4 linked regions of the Homo sapiens genome follow. The protein of the gene in region 4 interacts with the protein of the main gene of each other region in a pairwise test. Each region holds a gene or a part of one and is shown on either strand. Other genes may lie near its edges.

Region 1 (2,608 bases), on a different chromosome or scaffold from region 4:
GGCCAAAGCCATGGCCGAGGTGATGCCAGGTGGGAGCTTGTTCTCCAGGCGCTCTCAGGCCCTCCCGTGTGGCCTGGCTGCCTCAGGTTCACACAGGATACTGCGTGGAAGAGGGGGAAGCCCTTGAGACAGGCCCCCAGCTAGCCCGCAGACCCCAGGAGCCCTTGCGGTTCTGCACTCATGAACACTACGCACCCTCTCTCCAGCCGGGTTCTGCAGGAGTAGGGAGCTTTCTGGCCCCCCAGGGTGAGGCCTGGCACAGCTGCTTCCTGGTTCTGGAAAAGCTGGACTTGTCTGTCAGGACCTTGGGTCAGTGCAGCAGGACCTTGTGGCTTGAATTTCAGCCTGTCCTCAGTGCCAGGTGGGGGAGGGAGGGTGTGTCCCTGCAGGAAGCGCACCCTCCTAACAGCACCGCTCTCCCTGTAGCCCCGTATTCCTGCCCGCCAGCATCTGCTCCTCTCTAGCTAAGGTACAGTCTGCCAAAGTCAAAGAAACTGCCTCTTCCAGAGGTTGCAGTGGGCCGAGATCGCGTCACTGCACTCTAGCCTGGCGACAGAGCAAGATTCCGTCTCAGAAAAAAAAAAAAGAAAAAAACTACCTCTCCTTGAGCCAGCGGGGTCTCAGGGCCCTTCTCAATGGGGGCCTGCTGGCCTCACCTTCCAGAGCATGAATCTCCTGGGGACTTAGTCCCACCGGCCAAGATCAGGCCTCCCACCCAACTGCCAGGCCTGCCTCCTGGAGCGCCAGCCACTTCTGGAGAGACCACAGTGGGGTGTCTCATTGAGGTCAGCCTGCTGAGAAGCCCCGCTGCAGGGCCAGCTGCCATCCCCAGAGGCCCCCACTCCACTGCACAGTGGGCCTGGGGATGGGAGTGGGGAGGGCGGAGCAGCAGCTGTCAGGCTCCAGGAAGCAGGCTGGAGGCCTGGCCTGAGGATACAGCACCACCAGGAGCCCTGGTGTCCAGACTGTCTCCAGTCTGGAGAGGGACCACATGGGGAGCCCGGGGCCTCAGCCTGGCTCACACCTGCTATCAGCTTCACCCCGAGCAGAGCTCCACGTCTAGATGTTCTGCTAAGGTCCACCTGTCATGGGGTCCCTTCCCAGTGTCCCGAGGGTTCATCTGACACGTCAGAGCCAGGCAGGGCCCTGCCTCAGGCCCCCTACCGCCTCCCCACACAGCTGTGCCCTGGAGGGAAGGGCTCTGCCCCGCTGCGTCCTTCCCCACAGGCCCTGAGCCCTCTCATTGCCCGCCCGACAGCCCTGTGTGTCCGTGCTGGAGGTTGTGGGTAATGCCTGCGTCCTCTCCCCTGGGCCCCCCTGTCTCCCTGGGGGGACCAGCAGTCTCCAAGAAGACTTGGCATGTGGAAGGCACCTTTGGCCTTTGTGTGTGGCGGGCCGGCGAGCAGGCCCTGTGCAGGGTGTTGTCAGCAGATGTAGGGATTGCCCTGGGCCTGGTGAGGGTTGGGGAAGCACTCTCGGGTCTGACAGTGTCCCTTCACCCTCCCTCCCCTCCTCCCTGAGTGAGGTAGGGCACCAGGCAGCTCCTTGAGGGCTCAGGCACTGTTGGAAGGGGAGTGGGCTGGGGAGCGGGGCGTCTGCAGCTTCTGTGTTTGTGTCGAGTGCTGCTCGCTGTTGAGAATGTGAACGGGTCAGAGCTCTGTGTTGATGTGCAGTGAGCACTGATGGAGCACACAGAACCTGGACGCAGAACCAGGCTTCCAAAGGGACAGAGAAACAGTCAATTAACACTGGGAAAGGGAAGATGGGCAAAAGGGAACAAGTGGGCAGGCGTTCGGGAGCCTGGGCTGAGGCCGCCATGCTGTGCTTCCTTTTGCAGGTTGAGGCCTCTGGTGTCTACGCAGCCAGCAAAGAAGGTGGCCACGGGAGAGGTGTGTTGTCCCACGCAGCCAGGGCAGGGAGACCTTGGGAGGCAGCCCACTTCTTCCTGGGCCCAGATGCTTGGTCTGTGACCACAGGGAGAGCAGGCCTGACAGAGGCGCCTGCCCCTGCTGCCCCATACTTGCCTGGCATGGCCAGAGAATCGAGGCCCGAGGGTGGGAGCTCCCGGTTGCCGGAGCAGGAGCGGGCAGGAAGTGGGGACCGTTGTGTGCCTGCTGCTCAGCGCTCGGGCCAAGGCTGAGCAGCCTTGCTGTGGGCCTGGTGCCTGCAGGGAGCCTGTATGTAGGAAGCAGGCACTGCCAGGTCACAGGGCCCAGCCCTCCAGGGCTCAGGGGTCTTTCACCTGGACTGTCACTTGTTGGGGACTGGTCTGGCCCAGGAAACGAGGGTGAAGGTGCTGGCAGGTGGCGGGGGCTGGGGCAGGGGCCGGAGCAGAGCCTCTGTCTGTGTTCTGGGGGTCAGGGCAGGCCAAGCCCCCGGGGGCTGAGGCCACAGTGTCCTCGGCCGAGGCCTATGGTCTGGAAAGGTGTTCTGCATGCTCCCCGAGCACTGGGGTGGGGCCCAGTAGGATACAGGAGCAGGGGCTGGCAGAGGCCTGAGGGTGGGATCTTGATGCTGACACAGCTCATGGCACAGCCCCCAGGAGGCCAGAAGGGGCCAGTGGGCCTGGGAGCCCTGGCCAACCCCGGGAGCCACTGGTGTGGCGGGA
Region 2 (3,500 bases), on a different chromosome or scaffold from region 4:
GTTAATTCTCAGAAATCCTTGAAAATTTGCACTGATCTGACATCTCACTTTGATATCATGTATCTTGATGCTTCATGATGTCAATTGTATCCTGTATCTTCAAATACGCGAAAATTCTGTTTATAGATCTTTACGTATTAGAGACGAGTTAACTCACCTTTTGTTCCGATGCCTTTCTGCTACCCCTCTTTCCCAGGAGCACTGGTGGTGGTGTCTTTATGATTTTACGTGGGGTTGCCATGGCACCCCGGGGAGAATGAGCATCTCCCTGGGATGCATCGGCGACTGAGGAGGATGTGGGTCTTCTCTCTGGGGGAGGGGCATGTGCATGCGTGTGTGTAAGTATGCGTGTGTGTGTGCTCATGTGTGTGTGTATGTGTGTGTGCTTGTGTGTGTATGTGTGTGTGTGTGTATGTGTGTGTGTGTGTGTGAGGAATGGCTGCACCGTGTCACACAGAAGCGTGCAGCAGCTGCTAGAGCGTTCCTGCCAGAGTGGTCCAGGATGCCAGGCATCTCCCAAGGCGCTAGGTGGGGCCCTGGCTTCGTCCCATTCAGACCTCGTTCTCTGGTCCTCCGGAGTTTCTGTGAACTTCCTGAGGCCTGGAGCCCACCCTGTTTCGGTTGTCTGCAGCTGGGACCCCAGGTTATTTGTGGGTGACATTATTATTCCAGTTGAAGAAACCCAAGTCCCACAGCCCTTGTGGGCATCAAACTTGAGAAACAGGTCTGTCCAGTTGTGGCACTGGCCATGCCTCTGGAGAGGCATCCTGCAGGGAGAGGCTTTAGATGCAGGGGAGGCATGCAGGGCAGGCCAGAGTCCCAGCTTCCGGGTCATGGAAGAGGGTCCAAGGAGCTTCTAGGCTGAGGATGGGGCGCCTCTCCTGGGTAGGGTGGGGCCAGGCTGCCTGTGCTCTGAGTCTCCTGGGCTCCCCTCTTAGAGGCCCCACTGCTGGCCACCTCCTGACTCCATCCTGGGGTCTTCACACCCAGAATTGGCCACCCAGGGCCCAGCCACAGATGCTCTAGCCCTTGCCCACTGTCTCCAGGACCCTGGGTCCTGTCCACTCCTTGCCGACGTTCTACCTCACCCAAGCCTCCAGGACTCCCAGGCTGGGCCTTGGCTTTCACTCCCAGCTGTTCCCGACATGTGTCTCTGGCCCCACTTCTGCTGAATGGAAAAACCCCAGTACAAGGGCACAGTGTCTGGGCCGCCCCCCTCCCACAGGACCCCAAGGCTCAGGACACCGTGCTGGGCCTCGCAGAGCACACAGTGGGGCTGCACTGAATGGGCCCCATTGTTCTTTGCACCCAGAGCCTGTGCCAGCTCCCAAAGAGGGGGGATGCCTCATCTGCACACCGCGCAGCACTTCACACGTGCACAAAGCCCTCAGTGTGACCACACCAGCCCGGCCTCCTTGCGGGACACACACGGGACGTGTTTGGACTGAAGAGAGGAGACCCGGGAGCTATGGCCAAGGGAGACAAAGGGCACATTGGAGTCCCGGCTCCTCTGTCCGTGAGGTCCCTGGGCTCCCTCGTCCCTCAGCTCCCACCAAAGACGCTCGTCAGGGTGGGCACCGTGGAGCTCTGGGCCCGAGCCTCCCCCACCCCAACCCCCGCTTCTTGTGCCATCTGCTGAGTCACGTGACCTCTCTGAGCTGCCATGGACGCTCTGGTAAATCAGGGTGATGAGCTCCACACTGCCTTCCTTGCACAATCAAATAGGCTCTTGGATGTGTCGTTCACATCTGCTCCCAGTGCCGGCACAAGGTCCGGTAAACACATCCATGCAGGGGAACAAACCCATCGCTGGTGCCCTGGCCCAGCCCTGGCCCTGTCTCCTGTGCGCCTTTGACAAGTTGTTCAGCAAACGTGTCCTGACAGCTGGGTGTGGAAAGGCCCTGCCCTCTAGGAAGCTTCCGTGAGGTGGGATGGGGCATGCAGGGGTGGGCCGTGCAGGGGTGGTCCCCCCCGCCCTGACTTGAACACGCCATGCCGGCCCCTCTGTCACCTTTCTCCCCGTCCACCCCACTCAGCATAGCTGCTGCTGTCACGGGTGTGCAGAAAGCTTCGGCAAAGGATGCACACCAGCCCCACCCGTCCTGAGCCACCTCTGCCTGCCAGAGAGAGACGGGAGGATGAGGCTGAGCATCTGCAGGACCTGAGGGATGGAGGGAGGGTACCACTGCAGCACCCCTTAAATACTTGTTGCCACCAAGAAAACCCTGGAAGACTGAAGTGGAGGAAATCTGAGTCTCGAGCGACCTGAAGCTGTGCCCGTCAGAGTGGACCTGAGCCGCCAGCACATGCGATGGCCACCGTGCTCTCGCCCCCACCCTAAGGGAGAGCAGGCGCATTTTCATTCTGATGCAGAATGAACAGTGCCCTGAAGGCGGTCCTTCCCGGTCGAGCTATGTGCATGTGCTTTTAGTGACCTCATCATGTTTCTGCTACCTGCAAAACCTGCCACCCCCATCCCCGAGAAGTTGGGGGTGCATGTGGAACTCACTCATGCATTCACAGGTGCTAGCGCTTCCATGGGAAGGGGTTGGGGACAAGTCTCAGCCAAGGTGACAGCATCACAGATGGGTAGGGGCTCTGTGGGGAAGCAGAGGTGGTGGTGGCAAAAGGGAGGGGGCTGGAATCGTGCTGGGAGCACCCTGGAGTGGCATTTGTGGGTAAAGGACGGGGATCTGGTGCGTAGCAGCCAGTCCCTTTGTGCACAGGCATGGACCTCTGGCTGTGGCTGTCAGCCACTGTGCCTGCTGTTTGCCCAGACCCCTCAGTTGATCCCCTCCACTCATGACCCCCATCAAGCCTAGGAGGCTGGGACCCCGATCATGCCCATTCTCCTGGCCAGGGGACAAACGCTCCCTGGAAATCACACAGCTAGAGAGGGTCCAAGAGAGCAAACAAGATGCAGCTGTCAAGGGCAAGTCTGCACCTTTTCCTTAAAGTCAGAGGCAGACTCTTATACGCACCATACTCACATGTGTGATCCCATGAGTGTGCATGGTGTGTGGGTGCCTGCATGTGGTGTGTGTATGTGAGTATGCAAGTGTGTATGGTATGCCTACCTATGTGTGCATGATGAGTGTGCAAGCTTGTGTGTGGTAGAGGCACCGGTGTGTGTGCATAGGTGTGAGTGTGAGGTGTCTGAATGTGTGTGTGAGATCGTGGGGGCCGCATGAGGCTGCCATTGTCTGTTCAGCCCTGTTATACTCGGCAAACACCAAATATCACCCATGGCAAGCCCAGGGCAGTGATTTCTGCCCGTTCTCTCGTTAACACACCACCAGAATGCAGCCCAAGGCAAAGAGCCAGCACCAATCCTTGGGGTGCACTGAACAGGACCAAGGAGGGGCTGAGGGTGGGGCCTCCTGATCACCAGGCACTGCACACATTATTTCCCATCTTCAAATGTGCCCTGTGGACAGGTTCCAGCCTGGCTTCTCACGGAAGGCTTAGAAAGGATCAATGAGGTGCCCCGGCTTACTCAG
Region 3 (3,500 bases), on a different chromosome or scaffold from region 4:
CATGTGAAGACCCTTTGTAAGCTCAAAAGCACTATAGAAATGTCACTGATACTATTTATCTATGACCTTCACATTATAAAGATCATGCCCAAGAAGCCAGCAGAGGAAGGAAATGTTTCGAAGGAAGTGCCAGAAGCATCTGGCCCACAAAACGATGGGAAACAGCTGTGCCCCCCGGGAAAACCAACTACCTCTGAGAAGATTAACATGATATCTGGTAAGAGGAAGCAATTCAGGAACAATCCCACTGGCTTCCCTGGCGACGTTCAGGTGTGTGGACTGGGTGTGTGGCATGGATCCCAGATAACCCTGGGTCCAGGCTGGGCTGAGGAGCTTGCCCAGCTCCAGATGAGATGTTAGACATGACTTCCAGAGACAGACTGGAGTTGTCATCCATATAAAAAAAAACCACGTGACTTGAGGAAAGTCTTCCAAATTTCCTCAGCTCCAGGTTCCTAGTCCATAAGATGGAAATAAAGAATCATAGTTCATAAATTGTTTGGAGACATTAAATTTAATCTAGAAGGCCTGATGACATGAAAGGTGCTCAAGCGATTCTATCTGTGATAACCTGGGATCATATCTTACTCAGCTCAATGCCTGTTACCCAATACAGGTGTCCTTCAGAGATACTGCAGGTTCGGTTCCAGACCACTGCAATAAAGTGAGTCACACACATTGTTTTTTGTTTGACAGTGCATAAAACGTTATGTTTACACTACAGTGTAGTCTACTAAGTGTGCAATAGCATTATGTCTAAAAATGTATATACCTTAATTTTAAAATAATTCATTGTTAAAAATGCTAACAATCTTCTGAGCCTTCAGTGAGTCACACTCTTTTTGCTGGTGGAGGGTCTTGCCTCGGTGTTGATGGCTGCTGGCTGGTCAAGGTGGTGGTTGCTGAAGATTGGAGTGGCTGTGGCAGTTTCTTAAAAGAACACAACAATGAAATTTGCCACATCGATTAGCTCTCCCTTTCATGAAGGATTTCTCTGTAGTATGTGATGCTATTGGATAGCATTTTACCCACAGTAGAACTCCTTTCAAAGTTGAACTCAATCCTCTCTAGCTATGAAAGTCCTAGATGGCATCTCCTTCCAATAGAAGGCTATTTTATCTACATTGAAAATCTGTTGTTTCGTGTAGCCACCTTCATCAGTGATCTTAGCTAGATCTTCCGGATAACTTGCTGCAGCTTCTCCATCAGGGTTTGCTGCTTCACCTTGCACTTTTATGTTATAGAGACGGCTTCTTTCCTTAAACCTCACGAACCAACCTCTGCTAGCTTCACAGGTTTCTCCTGCAGCTTCTTCACCTCTCTCAGCTTTCATGGATTTGAAGAGAGTTCTGGTCTTGCTCTGAATTAGACTTTGGCTTAAGGGAATGTTGTGGCTGGTTTCATCTTCTATCCTGACCACTCAAACTTTCTCTATTTGAGCAGTAAGGCAGTTTTGCTTTCTTATTCGTGTGTTCACTGGAGTATTAGTATTATTATTTCCTTCAAGAACTTTTCCTTTGCATTATATACTATTATTTCCTTCAAGAACTTTTCTTTGCATTCACAGCTTGGCTGTTTGGTGCAAGAGGCCTAGCTTTCAGCCTGTCTTGGCTTTCAGCATGCTTCCTCACTAATCTTAGCCATTTCTAGCTTGTGATTTAGAGTGAAAGGCATGCGACTCTTCCTTTCATTTGAACACTTAACGGCCATTGTAAGGTTGTTAATAATCCTCATTTCAGTATTGCTGTGTCTCAGGAAATAGGGAGGCCCAAGAAAAGGAAGAGAGACGCGGAACAGCTCATCGGTGGAGCAGTCAGAAGACACAAAACATTAATCGATTAAGTTTGTCATATTCTATGGGTGCAGTTCCTGGTACCCCCAAAACAATTACACACAACAGGGTGATTATAGTCAATAATAACTTAATTGTACTTAAAAAAACTAAAAGAGCATAAATGGATTGTTTGTAAGGCAAGGATAAATGCTTGAGGATGGATACCCTATTTTCCATGATGTGATTATCATGCATTGCATGCCTGTATCAAAGCATCTCATGTACCCCATAAGAATATACACCTACTGTGTACCCACAAAATAAAGAACAAAAATTATTTTAAAACACTAAAAAACAACAAAAACAATTTTAGTAATAATAGTAAAGCTCACTGATCACAGATCACTATAACAGATATAATAATAATGGAAAAGTGTAAAATTGGTGAGAATTTCCAAAAAAAAAAATTGCAGCATCTGCGAAGCAGTATGAACATGAAGTGCAACAAAACAAGGTATGCCTGTGTGGCTTTAACAAATACGTGCTGTATGAAATTAGGTATGGGGGAATGTTCCCGTAAGTGAAGAGGTTGGGAATCTAAGCCTGAGAAGGGAAGGAGCCAGAAGCTAAAACTTTAATTGGCATTTGGCCTATATTGGTGTGGGTCTAAGGTCTCAGCCTCTCTAAGCCAGAGAATGTGAAAAACTGGATAAAGAAGGCCCATGGGCACTTGGGAGGAAGCAGGCATCTCCTTTTTTTGAGTAAACAGAGCCTAACACTCTCCAACCTACCCAACCCTCACTTTCCAACTATTCTCCATCATAGGACCCAAAAGGGGGGAACATGCCTGGACCCACAGACTGCGTGAGAGAAAGCAGCTGGTGATTTATGAAGAGATCAGCGATCCTGAGGAAGATGATGAGTAACTCCGTAAGAGAACCTTCCACTCATCCCCTGCATCCCTGCAGATGTGCTATTCTGTTATGATACTGGCATCCCATCTGTCACTTGCTCCCCAAATCATTCCCTTCTTATAATTTTCTAGTGTACAGCATTGAGGCTGAATGATGAGATTTCCCATGCTCTTTCTACTCCCTGCCCTGTATATATCCAGGGATGCTCCCTACCCAGGATGCTGTGGGGTCCCAAACCCCAGGTCAGCCCTGATATGCGGGCCACACCTTCCTCTAGCCTAGGAATTGATAGCCCAGGCGAGGAAGTCACTGTGGCATGAACAGATGGTTCACTTCGAGGAACCGTGGAAGGTGTGTGCAGGTCCTGAGATAGGGCAGAATCGGAGTGTGCAGGGTCTGCAGGTCAGGAGGAGTTGAGATTGAGTTGTCACGTGGTGGGAACTCACTGCCACTTACTTTCCTTCTCTCTTCTTGCCTCAGCCTTGGGGATATGACACATGCCCATGATGAGAAGCAGAACGTGGTGACCTTTCACGAACATGGGCATGGCTGTGGACCCCTCGTCATCAGGTGCATAGCAAGTGAAAGCAAGTGTTCACAACAGTGAAAAGTTGAGCGTCATTTTTCTTAGTGTGCCAAGAGTACGATATTAGCGTTTCCATTGTATTTTCTTGAAGTGTGTCATTCTGTTAGATATTAACATTTTCACTGATGAGCAAGACATACTTAATGCATATTTTGGTTTGTGTATCCATGCACCTACCTTAGAAAACAAGTATTGTCAGTTACCTCTGCATGGAACAGCATTACCC
Region 4 (3,998 bases):
ACTATTCAGTTAAAAACAAACAAAAAAGAGGCCGGGCGCGGTGGCTCACGCCTGTAATCCCAGCACTTTAGGAGGCCGAGGCGGGCGGATCACGAGGTCAGGAGATTGAGGCCATCCTGGCTAACACTGTGAAACCCCGTCTCTACTAAACATACAAAAACAAAATTAGCCGGGCGTGGTGGCGGGTGACTGTAGTCCCAGCTACTCGGGAGACTAAGGCAGGAGAATGGCGTGAACCCGGGAGGCGGAGCTTGCAGTGAGCCGAGATCGCGCCACTGCACTCCAGCCTGGGCGACAGAGCGAGACTCCGTCTCAAAAAAAAAAAAAAAAAAAAAAGATACAAGTGAGTATTCTTAATAGTATGTCAATTACATCTCAAAAAAGTCAAAAAAAAAAAAAAAAAAAGAATGAAAGAATACCTCCCCAAAAATGATACAAGAAAAGATTCACCTAAATCTGTTCACAGCTGTCTGCAGAGCTCCTACTGTGTGCTGAGCCTGGGGGTAAACAGGGCACGGACACGTTTGGGAGGGGATTACAGGCCGGGTTTCCACACTTTTTGGTCCAGGCAAACCCAGACGAGCCAGCTGGCTCAAGAACTTGGCAGCTGCGTGATGACTGAACAGAGGCTGCGTTCGAACCCACTACTGCAAGACTTAGGAGCCCCCGATGGGAACTGCCGTGGTTCACTGCCCCAGCCCCGCCGCTCAACTGCCCCGCCCTGGCCTACGACATCCTCCTGCCCGCATGGACTGCGCGCAGCGCCGCCAAGCGGGGAGCCCAGCTCGGTGCTAGCGCCCGCGAAGCGGAGGAGGCCGGCGCCCGAGGCTGGGCGAAGTTCCTCCTAGCGCAGCGAGGACCGGAGGGCAAGGCCAGCGCGCGCCGGGCGACCTGCGTCCCGGGCACAGACGCGACGGGCCCGCACGGGGCGGGGACCGCGCGCGCCTGCTGGGCCTACGGCTGTGGGGCGCGCAGAGTCCACCTGGCGGCCAAGGGCGCTGGCGACCGCTGAAGCTCCTGGGGGTGTTCGGGGTCCGGGCTGCGCCTGTGCCCGCGGGAAGGCTGGGCGCTTCCCACACACAGACCCCGCTCCGGGCCAGCCCCGCAGGGAGACTACCAGGGCTGGCGGTAGCTGGGCGTGGTCGGGTCGGGGGCGGCTGTGGGCGGCCGGCAGGCAGCGCGCGGGGCAGCCCTCGGCAGACGGCCAATGGCGGCGGTGCTCGGGGCGCTCGGGGCGACGCGGCGCTTGTTGGCGGCGCTGCGAGGCCAGAGCCTAGGGCTAGCGGCCATGGTGAGTGCACAGCGGCCGCGTGGGTGGGGGTCCGGGGTCGGGGGGCGGTGCGAGGCCCGGCGGCGTCGGCTGAGGGACCAGCGGGACTGGGGCGAACCCGGCGTGGGCCGAGCCTTGGAGCTCGGGCGTCGGGTCACCGCGTCCCGGGACTGACCACCTGTCCGGTGCGCCGCTCAGAGACCGGGGTGGCCGCAGCCTCCGCCACTTGCCCTTGACTTTACACTTCCGCCGAAGCCTACGAACTTGCCAACCGGAAACAAATGGGAACGAATTTTGTTCAGCAACTACAAAAGGCAGATGTGAAAAGTAGTTGCAGAACAATTCGGTGCCCGCTGCCGCTCGTTGTGCTGAGGACGAACGGCGCTGCGGGCCTGGCTCCCTATGGCGGCTCCCTGCTCGCGCTTCACTCCAAGGGGAACCCACAGAGGTTTTGGAGGAGTTATTAATAAATTGTCTTTTTTGGTGACATATTGACTTTTCTTTCCTTTTCCAAGGGGCCGTCAGTTTTCCTGCTGTAGAAATTAATATTTTGGAGTAAATGGAGGGAAAGTTTTAACATGCAGCACCACCTAGTGGAAAAGTGGTGCGTTAAACTCACCATCTCATTTTAAGTTGCATTTTAACCGCCCATTTCAGTTTGAAATGTTTTGTTTTGTTTTGTTTTTTCGACACGGAGTCTCGCTGTATCGCCGAGCCCGGAGTGGAGTGGCGCGATCTCGGCTCACTGCAACCTCCATCTCCTGGGTTCACGCTATTCTCCTGCCTCACCCTCCCGAGTAGCTGCGATTACAGGCGCGTGCCATTTCGCCCAGGTAATTTTTTATATTTTTAGTAGAGAGGGGTTTTCGCCATGTTGGCCAGGCTAGTCTCGAACTCCTGACCTCAGGTGATCTACCTGCCTCGGCCTCCCAAAGTGCTGGGATTACAGGCGCGAGCCACTGCGCCTGGCCTGAAATTCTTTAATAGAAGAATTTTTTTTTTTTTTTTTTTTTTTTTTTGAGAAGGAGAATCACGCCGTCACCCAGGCTGGAGTGCAGTGGCGCGATCTCGGCGTATTGCAAGCTCCGCCTCCCGGGTTCACGCCATTTTCCTGCCTCAGCCTCCCGAGTAGCTGGGACAACAGGCGCCCGTCGCCACGCCCGGCTAATTTTTTTGTATTTTTAGTAGAGGCGGGGTTTCACCGTGTTAGCCAGGATGGTCTCGATCTCCTGACCTCGTCATCCACCCTCCTCGGCCTCCCAAAGTGCTGTAATAGAAGAAATTTAAAATAGCTCGAAGACGGAGGAAGATAGGCACTCCGCCGCTTCTTGTCCACGAAGGGGAGAACACAAGTTGAGTGCCTACTGTCACCTAGGCGTGTCTTCAGGCGTACTCTGCCCCAGGTGCTAGTGATCCAGTAAGATTAGGGTGTTCTGGGAAGGAATGAGTCAACAGACATGATTTGAGCGCTGCCCCATGCCAGGCTCAATGCTAGGTACCCTCACATTCAAGATCTGTAATCTAAGCCTTTCAAAAAATCTTGGCAGGTAGATATTATAATATCCCCACTACAGACAGAAGGATCCCGGAATTCAGAAAAGCGGAGTTTAGTATCCCACAGCTAAAAGTAACAAAGTTAGGCCTTAGATCTAGTTTACTCTCTTCAAATCCTAGCCTACCCCCCATCCCCTGAAAAAATTAAGCCCACCACCAAGGGTTCTGCTGTGAATGTGCCCTCATGGGGGCCTTTGATGTTATGTAGATGAAGTGGCTCCATTTCCCAGTCCTGGGTGTGGTCCCTGCTGCTGGGCAGGTGTCTGTTGTGGGCATAAAGTGCATACCACTGATCTTAGCGGGGATGTGGATGGTCCAGCACTCAGAGAAAACAGCTCAGTGTGTTCTACAGACTCCAGGTTCCTGCCTTATTACAGGCAGCATGTTTAATGGTTTTCTTTGCAGCTACTCAGTGTGGACACACATAATTCTGTTTCTTTTCCAAAATTCTCTGAGTTGACAAAATAAGTGTTTAATAAGAATTTCAGAATTCTTTCTTTTTTTTTGAGACGGAGTCTCGCTCTGTTGCCCAGACTGGAGTGCAGTGGTGCGGTCTTGGCGCACTGCAACTTTGCCTCCTGGGTTCAAGCGATTCTCCTGCCTCAGCCTCCTGAGTAGCTGAGACTATAGGCGCGTGCCACCACGCTTGGCTAATTTTTGTATTTTTAGTAGAGACGGGTTTCACCATCTTGGCCAGGCTGGCCTCGAACTCCTGACCTTGTGATCTGCTCGCCTCGGCCTCCCAAAGTGCTGGGATTACAGGCATGAGCCACCACGCCTGGCCAAGAATTTTAGATTTCTTATGATAGATGTATGTGTAAGTTTTTCAGAACTGTCACTGGAAAACTGATGAATGAATCTCTTTTGATTTTTTTTTTTTAATTGAGTCGGAGTTTCACTCTGTTGCCCAGGCTGGAGTGCAGTGGCACGATCTCGGCTCACTGCAACCTCTATCATCCGGGTTCAAATGATTCTCCTTCCTCAGCCTCCTGAGTAGCAGGGACTACAGGCGCCTGCCACCACGCCCAGCTAATTTTTTGTATTTTTAGTAGAGATGGGGTTTCACCATCTTGGCCAGGCTGGTCTTGAACTCCTGCCCTCGTGATCCACCCACCTCGGCCTCCCAAAGTGCTGGGATTACAGGTGTGAGCCACCACGCCCGGACTTTTTTTTT

What was found.
Region 1: the proteins of PCBD2 (region 4) and BRF1 interact in a two-hybrid assay, tested with the Homo sapiens proteins (one large-scale study listed by BioGRID and IntAct).
Region 2: the proteins of PCBD2 (region 4) and KCNIP3 interact in a two-hybrid assay, tested with the Homo sapiens proteins (one large-scale study listed by BioGRID and IntAct).
Region 3: the proteins of PCBD2 (region 4) and SSX3 interact in a two-hybrid assay, tested with the Homo sapiens proteins (one large-scale study listed by BioGRID and IntAct).

The regions. Positions count from the first base shown.
Region 1 is NC_000014.9:105,211,394-105,214,001, reverse strand, and holds part of BRF1 (transcription factor IIIB 90 kDa subunit), read left to right. Parts: exon of another isoform or gene 1-1,827; intron 1,828-1,837; coding exon 1,838-1,889; intron 1,890-2,608.
Region 2 is NC_000002.12:95,310,847-95,314,346, reverse strand, and holds part of KCNIP3 (calsenilin), read right to left. Parts: intron 1-3,500. UniProt on the Homo sapiens protein: Calcium-dependent transcriptional repressor that binds to the DRE element of genes including PDYN and FOS. Affinity for DNA is reduced upon binding to calcium and enhanced by binding to magnesium. Seems to be involved in nociception.
Region 3 is NC_000023.11:48,346,704-48,350,203, reverse strand, and holds part of SSX3 (protein SSX3), read left to right. Parts: intron 1-81; coding exon 82-217; intron 218-616; coding exon of another isoform or gene 617-663; exon of another isoform or gene 664-807; intron 808-1,755; exon of another isoform or gene 1,756-2,599; coding exon 2,600-2,700; 3' UTR 2,701-2,704; intron 2,705-3,168; 3' UTR 3,169-3,500. UniProt on the Homo sapiens protein: Could act as a modulator of transcription.
Region 4 is NC_000005.10:134,903,933-134,907,930, forward strand, and holds the start of PCBD2 (pterin-4-alpha-carbinolamine dehydratase 2), read left to right. Parts: upstream 1-1,198; 5' UTR 1,199-1,207; coding exon 1,208-1,291; intron 1,292-3,998.